Linked DNA regions of Homo sapiens: region 1 is linked to region 2. The links come from fine-mapping of genetic effects on plasma protein levels. A gene starts in region 2. The other region holds a variant in brackets. All regions are shown on one strand. Distances are from middle to middle. Region 1 overlaps IGFBPL1 (insulin like growth factor binding protein like 1). Region 2 holds the start of IGFBPL1 (insulin like growth factor binding protein like 1).

The links. PIP is the chance, under the fine-mapping model, that this variant and not a neighbour inherited with it causes the effect. The UK Biobank Pharma Proteomics Project read protein levels with antibody pairs (Olink). The fine-mapping took linkage between variants from a reference panel, not from the people measured, so its PIPs are less certain.
Region 1: its variant is fine-mapped to the plasma level of the IGFBPL1 protein (UK Biobank, PIP above 0.99).

What each region holds. Positions count from the first base shown.
Region 1 is chr9:38,399,896-38,411,870 of GRCh38, forward strand. It overlaps IGFBPL1 (insulin like growth factor binding protein like 1), which reads right to left. Exons shown (of 5, transcript NM_001007563.3): 4 at 11,496-11,654; 5 at 6,633-9,322. The coding sequence ends at 11,505. Among named protein-coding and RNA genes, the nearest start is that of ALDH1B1, 13 kb to the left of the region's middle. The variant G/A (reference allele first, on the strand shown) is at 5,942.
Region 2 is chr9:38,417,942-38,429,916 of GRCh38, forward strand. It overlaps IGFBPL1 (insulin like growth factor binding protein like 1), which reads right to left and starts at 6,513. Exons shown (of 5, transcript NM_001007563.3): 1 at 6,024-6,513. The coding sequence starts at 6,483. It overlaps LOC105376041 (a long non-coding RNA gene), which reads left to right and starts at 6,670. Exons shown (of 8, transcript XR_007061487.1): 1 at 6,670-6,809; 2 at 8,709-8,822. RefSeq lists an enhancer at 7,558-11,837.

The DNA of each region.
Region 1 (11,975 bases), 18 kb before region 2:
CAGATTGTTAATAAACTCAGCCATCACGGCTCCTCCACCCATTTTTAAATTCTTTTAAAAATTTATTTATTTATTTATTTATTCATTCATTCATTCATTCATTGAGATAGGGTCTCATTCTGTTGTCCAGGGTGGGTGCAGTGGCACGATCATGGCGCACTGCAGCCTCCACCTCTTGGGCTCAAGCAATCCTCACACCTCAGCCTCCTGAGTAGCTGGGACTACAGGCATATGTCATGATGCCTGGCTGATTTGTGTATTTTTTGGAGAGACAGGGTTTTGCCTCATAGCCCAGGCTGGTCTTGAAGTCCTGAGTTCAAATGATCTGCCCACCTTGGCCTCCCAAAGTGCTGGGATTACAGGCGTGAGCCAGCAAGCCCAGTCCCCTCCACTCATTTTACCACTGTGCTGAATGCACAGACTTGTGAGCAGGGAGGTTTAACTGGGTGTCCTCATTCAGGCCAGACACTGCCCACCAGACTCACACTTGGGAGATGTTGCAATTCTGGGGCTTCCATCCACTTAGCAAACTCTCACCAAGATCTTACTCCATAAACACTATGCCAGGCACCTTGCCATGCTATGGAAGCCTCACAACCATCCTATAAAGCAGGTAGTGGAGTAATGGAGTTACCACCCCACTTTTTTCAGGTGAGGGAAAGGAAGTGGAGAGGTTTAATAGGGAACTCTTCTGGAATCAGTTCCCCATGAGCATGCACGAGGGACCAGAGAGCGGCGCATACTGGCAAGCACATGGAACCAACCCTCCAAGCCTGGAGAACCCACGGCAAAGCCCAGCAAGCCCTACACACCCAAGCCAGCCACTGTGCTGGATGCATCAGAGCTGCTGCTCAGTCCCACCGGTTCTCCTCAGACCCGGGGCCATTTAGGAACTTTCATTTGGGTTGGCTCCATTCTGGGTGTGAGGCTGACCTCTGGTGGCCACCTGATTCATTAATTCACACAAGTAACTCTTTGGTTTAAGAAAAAACAAAGGGGTTGGGTGGGGGGCGATGGTCCTGCTCTAGGCCTATTGTTGGGGGAAAGAGAATTGAGTAAGACAGTCCCTTCCCTGCAGGAGCTCACAGTTGGGCAGGGGAGACAATTACAGAGCCGGGTGGACAGTGCAGTGAGAAGCACAGAGGCCGTGAGATCATGAGCGGAAAGCAAGCCTCTGTATCAAGCACACACGGTGGGCCACCTCCCTTCATGCTTCTTTCTTTTTTTTAATTTCGTGATGGAGTCTCGCTCTGTCTACCAGGCTGGAGTGCAGTGGCGCAATCTTGGCTCACTGCAACCTCTGCCTCCTGGGTGCCTCCTGAGTAGCTGGGATTACAAGCAGACACCACCACGTCCGGCTAATTTTTGTAGTTTTAGTAGAGACAGGGTTTCACTTTCTAACTGCCATCAGGGCCCTCAGTATTATTCTTCTGCACTTGATAGACATCAAGCCTGGGAGGTGTTCAGCAGTGAGTGGAGACAGGCTCAAGCTCAGGTCCTCTGATTCTGCCAGACACCGCTGCCTCCCAGGGCTCCCAGCTCAGTTCAGGCACAGGCCCAGTGGGAGTGGGCATGGGGTCCTGCTAAATGACTAGCAGGGGACCAGAGGGATAAGGGAAGGATGCTCCTGGAGTCTGAGAAATATGGAGGGTTGGAGGAAGGGCAAGTTTTTCCATGAGGAGGAAAGAGGCAGGGAGGAAAAGCATGGGGGCAGGGGGCAGGCAGGGGCTGGACTGTGAAGGGGCTCGTGCATCCTTTCAGAAAGCTCACACTTGGTCTAGCAATGGGAGGGTGCTTTTTGGTTTTGCTTTTGTTTTTTAAACAGGGTCTCCCTCTGCCACACAGGCTGGAGCACAGTTGCTTGATCATAGCTCACTACAGCTTCAAACTCCTGGGCTCAAGCGATCCTCCCACCTGAGCCTCCCAAGTAACTGGGACTACAGGTGTGTGCCATCATGCTGGGTTAACTTTTTTAACATTTTGTAGAGATGGGGGACATCTCGCTGTGTAGCCCAGGCTGGTCTTGAACTCCTGGCCTCAAGCAATCCTCCTGCCTCAGCCACCCAAAGTGCTGAGATTACAGGTGTGAGCCACCATGTCTGGCTGCCCCCGAGGGCTTTTAAAGGAAAGTGATAGGATCACATTCGGTTTCTGAAGCTGGCTCTGCTTCAATGTGGAGGATAGATTGAGGGAGTTGACCTGGAGTCAGCACCTCTCAGGACATTGTTGCTTGCGCCCAAAGTGATGCTGGCACACCAGGGTGTGGGGTGGGGGCAGAGTCTGGACAGCCAGAAGGCAGGCTTCAGGGCATGATGACAGATGGACAACTTGGCACAAGAGAGGAGAGAAAGTTGGGTAACCTCATGTTTCTGGCTGCAGTAACCACGTGGGGGGTAGTGCCAGCCACTGCAACCACCCTGGAGGTTGCACGTTTAGGGACACGGTGGGACTCTTACTTATGTATTCCTTTGTTTAACACATTTTATGGAATGTTGTCTATGTGCTAGGAACTATTCTAGGGGCAGAGGATACAGCAGGAAACTAAAAAAAAAATAAAATCCTGAACATCCTTTCTGATAGAAGAGGCAGACCATATGCAAAACAGGTGAAATCGTTAGTCTGTCAGGAGGTGAAGGGTATTATAGAGAACAACAGTGCTGGGAAGGGAATAGGGAAGTGGGTGGGATGGAGTAGACATTGTAATTTTCAGTAAGGTGCTCAGAGGTCGTCTCACCAAGAGACTGGAGCATGCCTGGAGGCTCCAGGAACACAGGAGAAGGCCAGGTGGCTGGCATGGAGCAAGCCAGGTGGGGAAATAGGACAGAGAAGTCACAGCCTGAGGGGGGCAGAGGGCTGGTGTTTGGAGGTCACCGTGTGGATGGACTGACGGGGGCCTTTACTCTGAGGAAGGAGCCACCAGAGGCTTTTGGGCACAGCGGCAACATGATATGACTTGTTTTAAAAGGATCACTGGGGCCGCTATGTTGAGAACAGTTTGTAAGGGGAGCAAAATCATTTGACCTTAAGAATGCCAACAAGGAGTGAACAGAGAATGAGGAGGAGCAGGAGGAAGACCCAGGAGAGATGAGGCAAGAAGCCAAGGAAGGCGGGGTACTTTCCGGGGGAGGGAGCCCCCAGCAAAGCCTGAGGCTCCCAAGAGGTCAAGTAGGAGGAGCACTGAGCAATGTCCCTGGCTGCAGCCACCAGGACTCCCTGTAGACCTTGGTAAGAGCAGGTGGTGGAGTTGGGCACAGAAGCCAGAAAACCTGGGTTGAGAGTGTCACTTAATCCTCCCAAGCGCCAATGATCTGTACATTAGTCCTGGAGTTAGGAAGACCCTCAAGGGAAAGCAAGAAGTCCTGGTATGAGGCCCTTTGAGAGCCTCTGGTGCATCCCACCTCACTTAGCCAGAAATGTGGACAGAGCAACTTGGACAAGTTGCTCCCAGCCAAGCGTTCTTCCCATGTGTACTGGCATAATGTTAGCCGCCACAACAAATAACCCCCCAAATTTGAGGGTTCAATACGACGACTATTTAGTTTTGCTTATGTAACAGTCTAATGCAGGTACCTGGCAAATTGGTATTTTCCTTCCACATGGAGATTCAGGGACACCGGTTCCTTTCGTCTTGTGGTTCCACCATGTACAACGGTTCTTAACCTTTTTTTTTTTTTTTTTTTTGAGACGGAGCCTTTGCTCTGTTGCCCAGGCTGGAGTACAGTGGCGCGATCTCGGTTCACTGCAACCTCTGCTTCCTGGGTTCAAGCAATTCCCCCTGCCTCAGTCTCCCGAGTAGCTGGGATTACAGGTGCCTACCACCATGCCCGACTAATTTTTGTATTTTTAGTAGAGACACAGTTTCACCATGTTGGCCAGGCTGGTCTCGAACTCCTGACCTCAGGTGATCTGCCGGCCTCGGCCTCCCAAAGTGCTGGGATTACAGGCATGAGCCACCGCACCTGGCCTGTTCTTAACCATTTTTATGTTTTGCGTTCCTTTGAAAAGCTAATCAAAGCAATAGACCTTTTCACCATGAAAAGGATGTACACGCACATGCACACAGTTTGCACACTTTCAAGGAGTTCACAGAATCTGTGAATCTACCTATAGAATCCCAAGGGGTCCAGGGATCCAAGTGAAAACCCCTGTCTGGGGCCTCAGAGATCTCCGTGTCAGCTGGTAAATGGGGAAGAAAGTGCAGAAAAGGCACAGTGACTTTTTGAGAGCCCTGGGCTCTGCATGGAACACATCGCCTCTACTCACATTTCACTAGCTACATGACCCAGCCTAGGTGCAAGAGGAGACGGGAAGTATAGTCTGTGACAGGACAGTTCAACACTGTGGAAGACCCTCGGTTTTGCTGGCAGTTCGCCCCAGCTCTGCCGCCCATGGCACGTCCGTGGAGATATGCCAACAGGAGACTGCTTCTCACAAGGATGTTTTTTGAGTTTAATGCTCTCGTGGGTCATTTGCTGCCTCCCATCCAGCCGTGCTCACACTGTTCCTTTTTCTTGGAGCCCTACTTAAGGGCCACCCCCTCCAGGACAGTTCCTCTGAACTTCTCATTTAAGCAATCTCACCCTTTGAGCTAACCTTTTGCGCTAACAGCTGTGGCAGCACATGCTCTCTTAGCCTCTGAAGAGGTCTCTGGGCACCCTTCATTTAGTCTTGTACTGAGGCAGCTCTCGTTGGTTGAAACGGGTCTAATGTTTTTGTCCTGCTAGACTATGTCTCACATACTCTGAGCATGTTTGATTTATCTCCCAGCCCTCTCCCACCGGCACACAGCCCTCCAAGATCTGTGCAGAACAGACAGTGCATGGCCATTCACACATGGGGCTCTCAGAGCAACAGGCCAGGGCAGGGATGCCACCCTTCCTGGATTGAAGAGGAAATGGAAACTCTAAGAGTTGATGAAAGTGACCCAGCCTTGCAATCTCTGACAAGGCTTGACCTTAGTTCTGGGTCTTCCAACTCTAAAGCTAGTGCCCTTTCCACCCAAGCAAGAGCTGCATACACCTTCAACAGCAGAGAGACGGGGCATGCCACTTGGCACCACAAGCAGCCTTCTGTGCCGGAGCTGAGACTCCGAGGTCTGTGGGCAATTGTAGACCCTTTGCTACCTGGCGATGCCTGGTGCACTGGAGGAGCTCTGCAAATGTGTGATGGGTGGGTTTATGCATGGAGAAAAGAGGGGAGACTGTTCCCCCACTCCCTAGTACTCAGGATTTTTACTCTTCCCTCGAGAATCAACCGTTCCCTAATATAGGAGGGGAGATGTAGGCATGAGGAAGAGACAGCCACAGTGAAAGTCAACACAGGGAAGTCTGCCTCCTTGGACCCACGCACTTCTCACTGCTGGATGCAATCGAGGCTGAACTGAAAAGGAGCCCTGGCCGTAAACGAGTTCACGTTCCAGGAGAGCGGTCAGCCCCAGAGAGCCAGAGCGTGGGCAAGTGTTGGTGTCCATCTCAGCCCTGGGCACTGGGCTTCCACGTTCTGAATTCATTAAACTGAGACACCAGAGCACCTGGCTTTCCCTTAATTAATTAAAATATCATGGAATAATCATTGTCTGATGTAATGTTCAAGAAGCCCTCGTAAAGGCTGGGAAGGAGGAAATTCATTAGCGGAGACTTTTACTGTCGCTGGATCTGCCGTTCTTATTCATTTCTCCTGCACCATCCGTCCCTGGAGGAGAGGGCAGGACAGTGTTTTTAAAGATGTTGGAATTAATTTCACCATAAAACCTGAAAGAAAAAAAAATCCACCTTAACTAAAAACTAGCCTTATTTGTGTTTAAGGGGGAAAGCAGATACATTTGGGATTGAACATGGGCTGTGGAATTGTCTTCCTCAAGCCCAGCTGACAACAGAGACAGAGATTCAGTCTGTCCACTGCTTACGGCAACAAGTTCAACCTCCTCTGTCTGCATTGAGGG[G/A]TGTTGCCCCAAACTACTACCCGCCCACCACCATAGCTCTGAGCAGCAGCAACTGGCCATTCCTCCCTGTTCACAAACTACACTGCATTTTTCTACCCCGACTCCTTTTTGCATGCTGTTTCCTTAGCCTGGAATCCCCCACACCCACTCCTGCCAGTTCAAATGCCTGCCTCCTCTTCTGGGAAGTCTTCCTTGATCTCCCTCTGCTCTAACCACAAAGCAGACACCATATGCTGCCAGGGATGGTGACCTCATCCCACCCATGTCTCCACTGGAGTCTGAGTTCAGGACCTGATTCTACCTACTTTCATATGGGAGGAATCCAGATGATTCCAAACATATGACTTTCGGCATCTTGTACCTGTCTGGCACCTGGAGAATGCTACTGTGTGTGTGGGAGGGGACAGAGCACTATCTCAGCAAGTGAATTAAGTACTAGAATGCGTACACGGCAGGACACACATAGTCAAGGGCAGTAGTGTAAGATGATTAGGGCTGGTTAAAAATTTCGGGCAAGGTGAACGGTGGGGCTGCGATCGCAACCAGGCGTGGGAGGTAAGGAGGATCTAGACTAAGTAGCTGAAGTGGGCATGCAGAAGGAAGGACAGGAGGCATGAGGGATGATAAAGGAATACCAGTGGGACCTGCACCCACCTATACAGCATTCCTACAACAAAGACACCACAAAGACTGTCCTTAAAAACATTTATTTTTTTCAGGGTGCAGGGGTCGTGACATCATGACATCTACAAAAACGGTAGAAAAACCCAGGTTTGGTGCGGGGAGTGGGGGCATTGTAATTACGTCTCCAAATGCTAACAGCTGTGGCAGCGCATGCTCTCTTAGCCTCTGAAGAGGTCTCTGGGCGCTCACACTTGAAAAACCATGAGGTTGGAACAATCATGTTAATGCGCCTTTTTGGTTTTGGTGAAAATTTCAGACAGTGTGACATTAATTATTTGTCTTTGCACAGAATGATGATGCTAAAGCCAGCCCCATACAGTCCTGATGCTCAGTACTTCCAGCATGGGCTCTGTCCACCCTGCTCTCTGGGTCTACATCCAGCCCTTCAGTTTTCACTAGGCAAATCTGAGGTGAGTCAACTGAGTTTGCAAAATGTGCTTATTAGCAGGTGTGGGATGTTCTACTACCTTCTTCAGAGCCACAGCATTCCTGTTCCTTCCCACATCATTTCACTAAGGGTCTGACCAACTCATCTCCCAACCATTCAAGACACAGGAGAATTAACTGCAGGCCTTCACACATGGAAGTCAGTCACAGTGCGTGGAGAAGGGAGGGGCGGGAGGGGCTGAGTGAGGAGTGGATGTGAGCAGGTCCCCTGGCAGCTCCAAACCCCAGTAGACAAGAACAGCTTCCAGTGCCATCCATTTCAATTCTCATCTTTTGTTTTCAAAGAGAGCTTCCAGTGTTTTAAAGTTTGAAAACCACTCATCTAGTTTTATTCCCTTTTTACTCAAATAAGGACACTGAGGCACAGAAAGTGAAGGAGACTTGCTCAGGGTCACACAGCGAGCCGGGGATTAATATGCAAATGGATCTCATGTTTCCAGAATCCCAGGCCAGTCTCCTTCTGCTGCATAGTACAGAAGGTGATGCCATCCCAATATATTAGACATGGAATGGCAGGCTTACAGGCGGAAAGTTCACTTCCAACAAGGACTCCAAAATGTAATGCACAATGTGAGCGGTGTGAAAGTGTGCCTTAAAAGTTGGGATGAGTCTTGATAAGAGTCCCTGAAGCCTGTGGATTGGCAACATCTGCCTTTACATAGTTTTGAGATGACCCTGAGTAGCAGCACCGTGGAGTAGAGAGGGGACCAAGGAGGGCCAGGTGCCCTGAGCTCTGCTCCTCTTTCAGAGGCCTTCAGGCCTTGGGCAAGTAGCTTCTCCTCTCAGAGCCTGGTTTCTTCATCTGCTAAAGGCAGGGACATTAACACCTGTCCTGCCCCATCTCCCAGAGTTGGGATCAAGCTTTATGAACTTAAAGGACTGTGCATAGTAAGGGCTCTCAATTCTTATTTTAAAATTGTAATCACCTAAGGATCTATTTTTTTAAGATAAGATAGCAAATATTCTCCTTTCTTTTTTCATTAAAAAAGAAAAAAAAGAGAGCCTTACTCTTGGGTGAGGTCAAAATGTTTGTAGGTAAAATATATTCTACTACAATCTAATTCCACAGTCTGGAGATAACACCTGACCCCTTTTTTTACAATTTGATCGTCAGAAGCCTGGTATCCACCGCTTCTAACCACCTGTTTAGAGAATGCTAGGCTAGGCCAAGCACAGTGGCTGATGCCTATAATCCCAGCACTTTGGGAGGCCAAGGCAGGAGGATCATTTGAGCATAGGAATTTGAGACCAGCCTGGGCGGCAACATAGGGAGACCCTGTCTCTACAAAAAAAAAAAAAAAAAAAAAAAAAATAGCTGGGTGTGGTGGGGCATGCCTGTGGTCCCAGCTACTCAGGAGGCTGAGGTGGAACGATCACTCGAGCCCAGAAAGTGGAGGTTGCAGTGAGCCATGATCACGCCACTGCACTCCAGCCTGGGTGATAGAGCGAGACCCTGTCTCAAAATAAAATTTTAAAAAAGAGAATGCTAGGCTAACAAATGGATGCTCTGGTCTCCAAAGACCCAGCCAAGGCGCTCCTGAGTCTGGTAAAGCATCCCACCTAAAACTAAATCTCCTTCAAAGGGAAAAAGTTAGGAATAGAAGAGCTACAGCCAGCTGTCCACACGTTGGGGTAAAGCAATGGAATTTGTTTCTGAGGGAATACCATTTTAGAAAGAACACTAAGACCACACTTCCTGTTATTTTCCCAAAAGGCCATCTTAATCTAGGATGGCAGGGCTAAAAGGGACATTGATAACATCCAGTTAAAATGCCATACTCACAGATGAAGGGACCAGGGCCCAGAGAGGGGAAGGGATCTGTTCAGGTCACACAGCAAGTTACAGTCAGGCAGAGGACAGCTGGGACCCTCATCCCTCCTTCTACAACACACACTAAGTCACAGAGCACCACTAATAGGTCATAGACAAATGAGGTAAAGAGTCACAGCTGACACGAGCCCTTTCGAAATTGCAAACATGCCGTTCTGTGATCTCCCTGGAAGAGAATAATTACAAAAAGACTTCTCATGGAACAATTCATTTCAAAAGTATAAAAAAGCCACATGCAAATCCGTTTCTCACTGTTTGCCCTGCTAAAAACTACATCTGCATACAGATCTAGTTTGCATCTAATTTTTAAAAACACACAAAAGGGGTCATCTACACACACAGGTTTTCCAACTCTTCATGAAGCACAAAGATCCGTTATTTGACTTTTCCATCATCCCATGATCAATGTTTCTAAGACCCTAGGAAGAAAAGGAGAGAAAGAATTAGAGAACGTAAGCCTGCTCCGTTACAATCAACTATGTGTTACATGGAAGGTGGGGGAAATGATCCTTCACTTCGAATCTCTCCCCAGCAGGAAATGGTGCCAGTGGAGAGTGAAGGGCCCTGTGGAGTCCCAAGAAGTACTTTTAAGACCAAAAGGTGGACGTTTCAAAGCAGCAGACTCCAGCTTAATAAGATCTTTTCAACCATTGGAAAATCCACAGATGGCTCTCAGTGGTAGTGAGCTCTGTATCCCTGGAGGTATGTAAGCCAGAGCTGGCAATACTGTGTGTCACAGAAGGAACTCAAGACCTAGGCAGCAGTGATGCTCTTAAAATTCCACAATTTTTCATGGTATCCTTTTGATGTATTCACAACCCAGAATCATTTCTGCCTCAAAATATACGTGTATTTGAAAATTATAGATATATATATTTAAAACTGGAAACATATCTATATAAAACAAGTCACATATCATCAGGAAGACAATTTTAAGACCCAATCTCCTAACTCTTTGTTGAATTCCTATTTCACAGTTTTACATTTTCATATTTTTCTCCCCATTTCTAGGGCCTCTAACTACTCACGTACACCCATCCTTCAATCCTCATGCCACCTCCTCGATGATTCTTCCTTCATTTTCCCCAGTTCTAAGCTGCTTTTCATGCCTTAATATCTCCTCCCATTCCCTTACATCGCACTCCTTGTATTATAATTATGTCCACTTTTTGTTTTTCTGTGATCCCCTACAGACCAGAAGTAAGGCCTTGCACACAGAAGGTGTGCAACAGTAGTGGCTGAAAGAATAATATAACTAAAACCATGGCAAAATCCCCCTGCTTTTGAGAAACCCTATCAGACTTGTTTCTAATTTTTCCTGTTCTATTAAGCACCTGTTGATCAGCCTTGGTAATGGTGCCTGTTCACCACTGCTCCCCCATTCCTGTAAGAGGATCGTGCAGGCCAGGCACGGTGGCTCACGCCTGTAATCCCAGTACTTTGGGATGCCAAGGCGGGCGGATCATGAAGTCGGGAGATCAAGACCATCCTGGCTAACACGGTGAAACCCCGTCTCTACTAAAAATACAAAAAAATTAGCCAGGTGTGGTGGCGGGTGCCTGTAGTCCCAGCTACTCGGGAGGCTGAGGCAGGAGAGTGGCGTGAACCCAGGAGGCAGAGCTTGCAGTGAGCCGAGATCGCACCACTGCACTCCAGCCTGGGTGACAGAGTGAGACTCTGTCTCAAAAAAAAAAAAAAAAAATGATTGGTCTGTAAATGGGCGGGGCACACATCACATCCGAGCAGAAACTTTAAATGCAATGGTGTGTGCAGCCTGGCCACAGAACGGACATGTTCCACACTGGAGCTGTTCCTCCAGCTGGGTCCTGAATGAGGGGACACATGGGGCAGGGCCACAGCCAGCTCACAGCTATAACATGGAACATGAGCAAGTGATCAACGTCTGTGGCTGTGAACCAGCAAGATTTTGGGATTTTTATGAGCAAAAGCTGGCTTATAAAGTGATCCCTTTCCCGAATTCCCAGTTCACCTGTAGGCAAGGAACAGATGCAACCCCAGCTGTCACCTGTGTGACTACAGACTAGGAGGCCTTGACCAGAGGGGATGCAGAGATTCTCTCTGCCCCTACCCACAAGGAGATGTGTTGCAAAGCAGCACACAGTGCTGAGGACAGGAAGGCAAGGCCTGAGCCCCAGGAAGGAAGCTCAGGTGTCCTGAACAAGGAAGAGCTCCAGGAACACACAAAGGAAGCTCAGGCATCTTCTTTGTGGGAACATTTTCACATGGACGCTGTCACAATGACACTGTCTGCTACCTCTCTCAGTGCTCTTTCTAGAAGAATACAGAGGAAATATTCCCTCCAGCCCCAAAACACAACTGGTCTTTTCATCTCATGGACACACATCATGTTCACAGCTCTTGTCTTTGCATGCTAAGAAGCTCAGAGGGAGATGTGTGCAGAATATACCAGGGATTCTACTGCTCATCTAAGTATGTCCCTACTCTTCTTTTGCTCTTTCCCTGGTTTCCTCCATTTACGTATTTTTCTTCTTTTTTTTACAGGTCTTATAAGCCACCTCAAATATCTCATAACATGGGTGTAAAATACTGAAAATGACTTAGAACATGTACATTTCTCCATCACATGCGGTCATCGGGAGCTGGGAAGTGGAAGCTCCTGTATTTACTCAGATCTAGAACCGTCACTGTGCTGTGGGACTCAGCCTCTCCCACCATGTTGGCTGCATGGCACTGGTACACACCCTCATCCTCCTTTCGCAGGGGGTTGATCTAGAAATACAACAGGCAAGTTTATACAGTTATATAAGGAACAGCAAAATGACTTCCTTAGTTAGTTCTTAATGATAAGTCTGCACACTTCCTCCTTTTCAGAATAAGGTAAAACTTGCTCTATTTCTCTCCTTGCATTGGCTGCCAAGGAGCACGCAGGTAAATTTCCTTCCCAGGGACCCTCTTGAAAGGCACGCTCCCTATTGTGGCTCTCATCTGAATGATTCCTCCGCACACCTGCCTTTTACTGTGAGCTACCTGGTCTTTTGTATTAAAGGTGCAAGGTATAGGTTATTTGGAAAACACCTCAAGTTAAAAGAA
Region 2 (11,975 bases):
TCTGAGAAGAGTGGAACCCCCCTGAAATCTAAGTCCCCAGATACCAGCCCAAGGCCAACCTTGCCAGCAGGCCTTTCTGAGGATATGGTCGCAGGCCTGCCGTGTTAGCTGTTTTCTATACAACAATGAAACACCCCAAACATCACCCCCAGGGAACAGCTCTTATGAAGATAACCCATAACATGAGCAATGTGTCCTTGACACCAGCAGGACATTTCTAGTCCCTACTATCCCCAAGGGCTCATTCCAGCATGGCACTGGAGTGCTCAACGTCATGGCTGCCACCACAGGCAGGAAGGACAGCGTGGCAGGCAGGGGTGGAAGAGTCCAGGTTCAAATCCTTTCTCTGCCACGTCCCAGTCTTGGCCTCAGTGTCTTCTTCTTTAAAATGGGCACAGGAATCTATTCCCTTCCCAGCCCACTCCTCAAAGGCTGTTGTGAGGAACAATTGCAAGACCCCTTACAAACTGTAAAAGACCTCTGCAGAGGGACTTGAGGACTCAGGCAGGGTGTGCTGTCCTTAGGCATCTCCTCTAAAGCTCCCTGCATGCATGAGAGCCTCCTCTGGCCTTGGGTGAGAGGCACCAGGGACCATGACTACAGCCCTCACTCTGGGGAGCCAAGCACATACTCTTACTGTTGCCAGAGCCGCCACACTGCCAGAGGAACCAGGGCTTTCCTTTCTGCCTGCCTTTCACAAGAATGATGTGGCTTGCAGGAGGGAGGATGGCTTCTAGCTAGCCCAGTCTGTGAATGTGGAAGCTTCATCCCCCTATAGCTCTTCCTTGCTGATACTTGTTTCCTTCTGCTTGTGCCAGCAATAGCCCTAGAATTGCACAAATCCAACCATCCAAGGGCTAACCAGCAGGTAAGACAGTCACCCAGATGCACATGGTCACAGGAGGCAGTACTGTGGGGTGAGCAAAAACAGTACCAGAGGGAGACTCAAATGCCCAGGGGTCTCGCTGCCAACCACTTGAGCTTGGGCAAGTTGCTAATCATTTCCTTTTTATCTGCAAATGAAGATGATGACCGCAGCCTCGCATCCTTGGGGTGAAGGGAGAAAATGGATGTGACTGTGTTATTAACTGTGTGGATCTGTACAAATGAAAGGGATCAATATTATTATTATAGTGTGTGGTGATTTGTCCCCCTACCTCGTCAATTATATCGATCATTGATGGCTGGAATGAAAAAATCTTCCCAAATCCCTCTGAGATTTCTTTAAAGTTAATGGTGCTAGGGAAAGAAAGGATATCAAGTCATTCCCCAGGACCCCATCTGCTTGTATTAAAAAGCACATAACCAAAGATTTTAATAATCAACACACTGAACAGCCCTGATAATTTATGCTAATAGTCACGTTATGATGTGGAACAAGAAACAGCTTAATCCTGCTCCCTGCAGCCTCTGCCTCAGATCTCCTCCCTCAGCATGAAAGGGTTTTGAGCACAAACCCCCTTCTTTGTCCCTCTCACGAAGTGGCATGCGCTGCCTCTCCTGGTTACCTGGTAACACACACTAGCACAGACCTAGGTTTCTAAGTGGAGCTGGAATTTCAACCAAGGTGAATTTTCTAAGATTCAGGGTCTCAGGAGCTCACCGAAGCTGCCAGGGCTCAATGCCCTGGCGGGTGCTGGCCGGGACCCTGTTCCTATCTAATTTATCATTTGAAACATGACATTAACTTGCTGTCCGTAGGACCCCAACCCTCTCCCAATGCTAACAAATAGGGTGCACACACTGAACTATCCAGCCTTTAAAGTAATGAGAGCAATAATAATCATCATAATACTAAGGCCATACCACCTTACCAGTGAGAAGCTGAACCAATAATTCAGAATGTATCGAAGACCCACGTATGAATAATTCTTACTGTTGGAAATTGCTTTTGCATCCTTCTTCTTCCTTCTCCTCCTCCCCCTCCTCCTCCTCCTCCTCCTCCTCCTCCTTCTTCTTCTTCTTTTTAGACAGGGTCTCACTCTGTCTCCTAGGCGGAGTACAGTGGCATGATCATAGCTCACTGTAGCCTCGAACTCCTGGGCTCAAGAAATCCTCCTGCCTCAGCCTCCCAAGTAGCTGGGACTACAGGCACATGCCATCATGTCCAGCTAGTTTTTAGAATTTTTTGTAGAGATGGGATCTTGCTGCGTTGCCCAGGCTATCCTTGAACTCCTGGCCTCAAGCAATCCTTCCACCTCAGCCTCCCAAAGTGCAGAATGAAGCTTCCCCCTTCGGCCTTGCACCCAAGGCTTGCAGTGGCCTACCCCAAACTACTCTGGGGTGTCATCTCCTTTCCCAACCATCCTACCAGGCCTCGGCCCTATGGGCCCACTTGCACACCCACCAAAGGGCTCCCACCTCTGAGCCTCAGTTCATGCTGTGCCTCCCCCTTGCTAGCATTGGGATTCTCTCCCCATCCTTCAAGGCTTCTCTCAGGAGCTATAGCCCAGTGCTAAATAGAGGGACAAGTGACAAACCTTGGGAAAAACAGGAAGGTGGACCCAGATTGAGAAACCCCCAAGATTCAAGGCTGGCGGGTGCACAGCACCTTACTGATCAGGTTGCTAGCGGCTAGCTGTGCAGCGCCCATCTGAAAATAGCGAGGCAGGCCAGGCATGGTGGCGCACGCCTGTAATCCCAGCACTTTGGGAGGCCGAGGCGGGCAGATCATGAGGTAGGAGATCAAGACCATCCTGACTAACACAGTGAAACCCCGTCTCTACTAAAAGTACAAAAAACAAAATTAGCCAGGCGTGGTGGTGGGCGCCTGTAGTCCCAGCTACTCTGGAGGCTGAGGCAGGAGAATGGCGTGAACCCAGGAGGTGGAGCTTGCAGTGAGCCAAGATCACACCACTGCACTCCAGCCTGGGTGACAGAGTGAGACTCTGTCTCAAAACAAAACAAAACAAAACAGCCAGGCAAACCTACACTGGAGCCCTTTCACAGCTGGGACCAGCCAGGTGGCTCCAGGGAATTTCCTTCCATGTGCCTCAGCTTTCCCTTCTATCAAATGGGAAGGAGACCTCCCCAGGACACTTGTAAAAATCATGTAAAAAGATGGGTGCAGCCCAGGGATGGTATCTCATGTCTGTAATTTCAGCACTTTGGGAGGCTGAGGTGGGAGGAGTGCTTGAGGCCAGGAGTTCAAGAACAGCCTGGGAAACACAGTAAGATCCTGTCTCTACAAAAAATTCTAAAAATCAGCTGGGCATGATGGTATGTGCCTATAGTCCCAGCTACTTGGGAGGCTGAGGCAGGAGGATTCCTTGAGCCCAGGATCACAGTGGGCTGTGATCAAGCCATTGTATTCCACCTGGGAGATACAGTGAGACCCTGTCTCAAAAAAAAAAAAAAAAAAAAAGGATGCAAAAGCAATTTCCAACAGTAAGAATTATTCATATGTGAGTCTTCCATACATGTGTGCGGATCAAAGGATCACTCTCATTATGTGGCAGTTTGGGGCATTTCAGGGCATAGGAGGAAAGGGCAGAATTTAAGCCTGAAAACTGCTTCCCCAGGCTCCTCAGAGGCATGTATAAGGGCCCTTCACACACTGTGAACAACATAATAAATACTTCCCGAGGCCTCATTCCATGAAATCTAGGTGCTTGGGTACCCAAGGAGTCAGGAGGGGTGATTTTATCATGAATATTGAAGCAGAACAGCCCTGCTCTGACTCACAGTCTGTTTTCCTTCAACCGGGATCCCCAGAGGCATTGTTAAAAAACGCTCCCGCTGTGTCTTGTGAATAAAAGATGGCTTTAGGGCAGCACAGAATGAGCTGCTGCCTGGGCTAGGAAACATCCCCTGTCCAAACCTTCATGCTTTATCTGGACACAAGGGCAGAGGCCACACTAGCACTTCAGGACAGAGAGTGACAGGCAAACAGTGCCCGGTTCTGTGGTGGATGACACAAAGGCTGGTGCGGAAGAAGGGCTGAACCCCGGGGAGGCCTGACGCCTGTCAGTAATGAGATCATGAAAACCAGTTCTGAGTTGCTTCCATGTGGCCCCACGAATATCTTTATTCCCTGGGTCTGTGCCTGGGGTGGGCCTCAGATCCCATAGATCAGAGTGAAGGGGCTGTCACATTTACTTGTCATTTGGTAATTTTCAGTGAATTAGGGGTATGGAGTTTCCATCTGCCATCTGGCCTCACTCTGGTAACCATGGTAACCACCATCTGCCTGACTTAATACTATTAAGTCCTGTGCCAAAAGAGCACTGGACAGGGTGTTGGGACCAGGGAGCTGGTCATCCTTTACTGGTCACCCTGGACAAGGGCTCTGACCTTGCTGTGTCTCAGTCTCTTTCTCTGTATAACAGCAGATTTGGTCTGAATGTCTTTAAGGTGCCTTTCTCTTAGGAAGAGAATGCCACTCTGGGGAGAAATTATCTGAGATCATCAGCAGCATTTATAGTCTGAGGACCTGGTCAGCATTTCTTCTGTCTCCTGCATGTGGAGTTAAAAGTGTTACCTGTCTGGAGACAAAGAGAATTGCCTGTGAATTAACGGCTGAGGAAAGCAGTTATAAAAACGAGTGATAGGAACTAGCAAAAGGAAAGAGACAGGACTGTTTAAGTGCCACAGGGCGGAAACCAACTGTTCCGAGTGAAAGGGACCTCAACAATGACTCCACTGGGGCTGATATGGCCAGAGAGGGGAAGGGACCCGTCCAGGGCCACTCAGGGAGCCAGCGGCAGCACAGATGCACCCCCAGCCAGCTCTGTCCTCCATGGGGAGCTTCAGCTAGGAACAGCCAATGGTGACTTTCCTGTGCTCAACTGGCCACACACTGGTTTTACATTTCCCAGGACTGGAGGCTTCCTGCCCCATCTCCAACAACCCATTGCGTCTCCTGGACTTGGGTACATCTACCTGAACTACTTGAGAGGAAAGACTACTAGATACTTCTTAAGGCTTGGAAAGGTCTCACCCCACCCCAGGCTTCTTTCTTGAAGCTAAGTCATTACACTGACTTAGGCACTAAAGTCTGGACTTGGTCTCTGGGCTCAGGCCAGAATTATTTCCCAGAAGCCTGAACTCCAGGCCGAAACCCAGGCTCCTTGGGACTCACTGGCCACCTTCTCACTCACCCTAAACTCAGCACTGCCCACTCCAGGCAAAGTACACAGCGGCACTTCAAAACCTAGTGGGTGGAATACACTCATGCTTAGGAAGCCGGTAAAGCAGTGCTAACGTTTTGGTTTCTTTTTGTTTGGTTTTCAAAAGGTACATAAAGAGGGTGGGCAACTATAGCACTCAGAGATTATTTTACTGTGATGTTAATGAAGCTTAAGTTTCTAAGTCCCTAGCATTTCATAATAAGTTTCTAAGTCCCTAGCAGTTCTATTCCTTTACTTAAGGCAGGACTCTCCAAATTATATATGTTTTAGAAGCACGAAACCTGAGTCTGCCCCTAATAGCACCACAATCTTTTCAGACCTTACGTCTCCAAAGGTCTTACTTCTCCTGGATGGAGCTCCCTCAGCATCCCAGCTCAGCCCCTTCCCACACCGGGGGCCCTGGTGCTCTGGTGCTGTGGCCTGGTGACTACTGATTCCCCAGTCTGGAACTCATCCTCCTCCTGCATCCTCAACTTCCCTTCCTCCCCTATCCTCTACTTCCCTTCCTCCCCCAACCTCAACTTCCCTTCCTCCCCATTCAAACAATCCACCTAGCGCTGGATACCTGGGAACTCGGATCCCCCTCCTTAACTCCCAGTCTCCTGCTGGGCAAACATACCATGCCTACAAATAAGTGACTGCATCAGCAGGTACTTAAGTACCAAAAGGGGTAGCAGGCTCACCAAAAATTCGACTAGCACAGTGAGTGGCGTCTCCAAGGATTCTCGCCCCAGTCTCTCTGAGCACGAGGAGAGATATGAAATACTGCTCCCTAAGGGGAAACTGAGTGCCAGGCAGCGCCGTCCACCACTGGGCAGGGGGATCCTTCGCTCCACACCCCAGAGGGTTGGAATCCCTCCTTCTCTACCCACCCAATCCCCGACCCTGACTCACCGAACTCGCAAGGGCCGTCGCGCGCCTTGTGCAGGTGACCGGGGTGCGCGCGGGGCGTGTGCCGAGCGCGCAGGCGCAGCGCGCAGACGCTGGGGTACGAGCGACCGTCGGAGCCGCAGACGGTGCCGCGCTGCGCGCACACGCAGAGCCCGGTGCCCTCGGGCGCTGCCCCAGCGGCCTGGCTCGCGCATACCAGGCCGGGGCCACAGCGCCCGCCGGCGCGGCCCCCGCAGCTCGCGCCCTCGGCTCCCAGGCAGCGGGCGCAGCAGCCGCACTCGTCGAGCGCCGAGATCCCGGGCGCCGGGCAGGGCGCAGGCGCCGGGCAGCCCTCTGGCCGGCACGGACCACACTTGGGGCGCCGGCCGCCCACGTCGCGGATCCCAAGGCTCGGGGACAGCGGCGGCAGCAGCGGCAGCAGCAGCAGAAGCAGCAGCGGCAAGAGCAGAGACAAGCGCGGCATGGCTTGCTCCGGGACAGCGGCGGCGCCTCTGCTTCGCGCTCCGCTCCGCGCCCGCCGAGCAGTCACCGCTCCCGCCCCGCGGCCGCTGATTGGCCGGGCCTGCACCGCGGGGCGCCCGCAGACCGCTGCTCCAGCCCGGGACCCGCGCGGTGCCCGCGGCCCGGGTCTCCGAGCTGGAGGGTCGCCCCGAGAGCAGCTCTCCGACCTCCGATTGGACTCTTGAGGGAACCGAGACCCAGTCGGGGCGACAACTTGCCCGAGGTCGCTATGGCAGAGTCAGGATTGGATAACCGTACGGTCTCCGGATCCAAGGCTGGCTCCAGATAGTATGCCCGTAAATCCTCCCAGAAGGATGCGCTATTTTATTTAATTTTATTTTGCATTCAGTAGTTTTCAAAGTTTTATTTTATAAAGAGAATATATGGTTTAAAATGTAGATTTTACATATACATCTAAGGATGAAAAGAGGGTTACCCTACCACCTTGTATCCCCATCCTCCAACTCGGCTTCCAGAGGCCACTCTTGCTATCGGGTTTTTGTATATCTTTTCAGAAATTTTCTCTATGCCTATAAAAGTACATGTGCCTAAAAAAGCCCCTTCCTTTAAAACACACACACTCTGTTTCTCTCTCACACACACAGAGTAGCGTGCCATACACATTAGTCTGCACTTGGTTTTTGCACTTACAGTGTTTCACAGTTTCCCCACCTCTTGTCATCTGTGAAACTGGGTTTCTTATACAATCAATGGGAGCATAGTTCATTGGCTCTGTGAGTGTGTTTCTTAATGCTGCATAAAGTCATGGTACATCTCCGTCCACAGTGACTTTGTTGTGATGAGATATGGTGATATATTTTGGAGTTCATACAGAGTGGCCTTTCCACAGGGTTTAGTTGCAGTTATTTAACCACTTATTTTCCATCCTTTGGTTAATACGAATAATGCTTTGATGAAGTCTTGGTGCACAAGGGTCAGTGTACCTGTGGCTTACTGGGGAATGCATGTTGGAAAGATGCAGTTTCTTGTAGTCAGTTATTCATGCCGCCGTTGCGCCTTCTCTGGGCCAGGCTCTGTGCACACCATCCTGCCTGAGTTCTGGCAGGGCACCCAGACGAGAAACCTAAGAGAGTCTTGGCTGCTGGGATTTGATGTGTTGCTGGGTAAATGCACTGGATGGAGGGAGGGACTCGCTGAGCAGGTTTTATAGGAGACTTTTCCTGCCTTTACTGGCCACCCCTCATGTGTCTTGTGCTCTATTGTTTTTTCTTTGCTGAACTCCTGGAGATGGAGAAAGCCTCTTGCAGCCTGGGAAGACCAGCTACACCGTTCTTGGGTGGGGTTCATTTTGCTTTTCAAGCCCAGTTCCTTCCCAGTTTGCAGTCTTCTTATCCCCAGAAAGGAGCCTCTTCTGAGGCCACTTTATGTGGTGGTCAGAGGAGGGCCATCTGCCTGGTCCACGCCAGGCCTTACCTTACAATCAGCCACACAGAGCAGGGGCGGTTAGGCACCATGAAGGGGTGGTGGTAAGGAATAAATATAACAATGTTGGTAATGCACTCAGCGCAGCTCTCAGAACCTATCAACAGTGACTTTCAACCTGGAGGCTGCTGTCTTTACCAGGAGTGGCCTTTTAAAGTGCTCTCACCGCTTGACCCCTCTGTGCTCTTCCAGGAATCTCTCCTAAAAAAATGATCACTATGTGTGAAGATTTCATCCTGGAGTTGGTTACTATAGCAAAAAATAAATAAATAAATAAAATAAAAATAAAAAAAGTTAACGACCTAAATGCCCACCGAGAGGCAATCGTTAAATAAATTATGGTACATCTAACAATAGAGGATTATGCAGGCATTAACAATTAGAAAGAAAATATGGGTTAATAGAAATGAAAACATGTTTATAATACATTGTTTAGTAAAATAGCGGTTAAAAAGTGCACATCTAATGTAATGGCATATTTGTAAATATGTGAATGTGTAAACATGCAAAAATTTAAGATTGTTTTTAATGATGTGAAGGAAACCCTTTTTTTAAAAAAAAAAAAAAAAAGAGATGGTACCTCATTCTGCTGCCCAGGTTGGAGTGCAATGTCATGATCATAGCTCACTGCAGCCTCAAACTCCTGAGCCTCAAGCCGTCCTCCCCCACTCAGCCTCCTGAGTATCTAGGACTATAGGTGAGCACCACCACGCCTGGCTAATTTAAACAATTTTTTTTTTTCAGAGATGGGGTCTCACTATGAGAAGGAAACACTTATAATGTTAAATGAACAAAGCAGGATTTGCAAACAAAAGAGATAAGCGAACTCCATGCTGCTTTTCAGGGACAACTTTGCTGGTAAGTTCAGACTTTCTAATGGTTCATAGTTGTCCAAAGAGAGATCAGGCTGCTCCAGAGATAGTGAGGTCCTTGTCAAAGAAGGAGTTTAAGAATGAGTCTTGGCAAGGAGCATGGAGGGGGTCAGAAGTAGGGGTCAGGGGAGTTGACGTTTGATTACCTCAAACTGAGCCACCATTCCTGTAGTACAGTGCCCGACCCTGAGACCTGGACTGGACAAAACATGGTCATGATTGAGAAATAAATGTGTACAGAAATGATTTGCCTGCTTTTTATGCAGACATTAAAGGAGGAGTAAGTGAACGGTGTCATAATGAAATTAATGTGTGCTTAATGCAGGTTAGGATACACAATCTCACAGAGGCGCATTTACATATGATCTACATTCCTTTTAAATGGTAGGGAGAGTACTATGTATGCATAACGACTCTTTGAGAATTAAATCAGAAGACTCATTTTCCAACACTGAGCCTGTGGCATCAAAGCCCCTGTATCTGGGTGGAGAAAACATTCCCAAGCTTTGAAGGTGATCAGTCATGTCTATTTCCTTTTAAAATTGCCTGCAAGCCCATAGCCCAGCAGAGGCATTTGTGCTCTTTCATCTCTCTGGTTCCCAGAGTACCAGTTAACACTGTGGGCCACACCTGTGGGCCCCCTAAGATGATAGGAGAAAGTAGGGACAAATTCTCCCAGTCGGGAAGGGGGGTTGAGGTGCCTCTGTTGTCTGGCAGGTGGAGAGATCCCATGCACCTGGGTAAGTAATTAGGCAACAAGAATGGGTGTGATTTTCTTCCTCTTCAGCCTCCAGCCTGAAAACAAACACAACACAGGGAAGACTAGCCAATCCCCCATTCAGAGCAGATGTGTGCCCACCCGGCAGCTGCTGAAGTGGGTATGAATGTCCCATCCATTAATTCCTCCCTTGAACGTAGAGATAAATGGCAGATATTCTCTGTCCTTGGGGAGCTTCCAGCACAGAGGAAGAGAATAGAAGCTCAGTTGAGCAAAGGCCACTCCATAAATAGGCCATGGATTTGAACCTCAAGCTTTAATAGTCAGGGCAATCATAGATAGTCTTCTCCAAGCTAAAGGAAGGTGAAAGCCCTTTCTCCAGACCTCTGGTGGGCGATTACAGAGCAGAAGGCAAGGTGAATTTCTAGAGGGAAGTTCCATAAATGACAGATGGGATTTTTAGGGAGACAGATTTCACTTCAATATTGCATGCAAGGGGATGTAGCAAGATGTAGAACTCTGCAAAGATGGGAATTCAGATACTGAGCAGACGAAAAAGAATGGTAGAGGATTTGCTGTTCTGCTGTAAACCACTATATAACTTGGACAAATTAAAGAAAACAGCTATGGACAGGCACTGGACAGTGTTCTAATACAGGGCTGTGATCCTTGAGAGCGTCAGGGGGTACACAATGTGAGCCCCACATCTACCCAAGCATTCTCCCTGGGGACACTTTCCAGGCCACTCTGCAGGGAGGTGGAGGCCAAGTGGTCTCACTGGACAGAAGAGGTAGACATCAGAATTCAGGAGTAAGGCAGAGATTTGGGGATCTAGGACAGAAAATGAGGAACCACAGAGAGGGAATCCCACAAGTCTTAGACCTTTGGCTGACCCTGTACTGCACAAGTACAGGGCAAGACTTGAGGGAGGCTGCTGGGAGGTGAGAGCTGAGCAGAGATTTGGGGCTCACACAGTGCTGATAAGATTTTAGAGTTCAGGCCCACCCAGAATGAACTGCCCCAGCCCCCCTGGGGTTCTTTCTCCAAGCTCAGTGACACTAGCATCAGCCTAGTGGCACACCCTGCAGAGGTCTCAGTTTGAGCTCCAAGGACCCCTCTTATACGCATCTAAGTTTTAGTCATTCCAGCCATTTCCATTGTTCTCCTAGCCCTCATGGTGGTAGCTGCTTCACAGTTGCTACCTCCAAGTTGCCTAGTTAATAATTCCTCTTCTTCTTCTTTTTTTTGAGACAGGGTCTGGCTCTGTCGCCCAGGCTGGAATGCAGTAGCACGATATTGGTTTACTGCAACTTCTGCCTCTTGTGCTCAAACCATCCTCCTGCCTCAGCCTCCTGAGTAGCTGGGACTACAGGCATTTGCCACTATGCCTGGCTAAATTTTTGTATTTTTTTTGTAGAGACAGGGTTTTGCCATGTTGTCGATCCCAGTCTTGAACTCCTGAACTCAAGTGATCCGCCCACCTCAGCCTCCCAAAGTGCTCAGATTACAGGCATGAGCCACTGTGCCCAGCCAATAATTCTTTTTTTTTTTTTAATTATTATTTTTTGAGACGGAGTCTCACTCTGTCACCCAGGATGGAGTGCAGTGGCATTATCTTGGCTCACTGCGACCTCCACCTCCTGAGTTCAAGCGATTCTCCTGCCTCAGCCTCTCGAGTAGCTGGGACTACAGGTGCATGCTGTCACGCCCAGCTAATTTTTGTATTTTTAGTAGAGACAGGGTTTCGCCATGTTGGTCAGGCTGGTCTCGAACTCCTGACCTCAGGTGATCCACGTGCCTCGGCCTCCCAAAGTGCTGGGATTAGAGGCGTGAGCCACCATGCCTGGCCCAATAATTCTTTATATTACATTCCATTTGTAGGCTTGGCACAGTGGCTCATGCCTGTAATCCCTGTACCTCCCAAGGTTTGTGGGGAGGATTGTGTCAGGACTTCAACAGCCTGGGCAACATAGTGAGACCTCTTTTCTACTAGCAAAAACATGTAAAGTTTGCTGGGCATGGTGGTACATGCCTCCAGCTACCCAGGAGGCTGAGGTAGGGGGATCACTTGAGCCTTGAAGTTCAAGACTGCAGTGAGCTGTGATCAAGCCACTGCACTCCAGCCTGGGGAACAGAGCTGTTGCATGCCTGAAAAAGAAAAAAAGAGAAATGAATTCTATTTGTCATCTGACTAGGTAGGCCTGAGTGATCTAGCTAATAGAACCAGGAGTGGTCCCAGGAAACAACTGTCAAAGATGGGTCACAATCAGAGAACTAGAAAGCTTAACTATAAATATGCTTCAATAATCATACAAATTATTTATTTAAATGATAAATAAGAATACATTTCTTGCAGCTACAGGGTCAGTATTGCTGAAAATGACACAAAAAATGTAATTGTGTGTGTTGCATAATTATAAG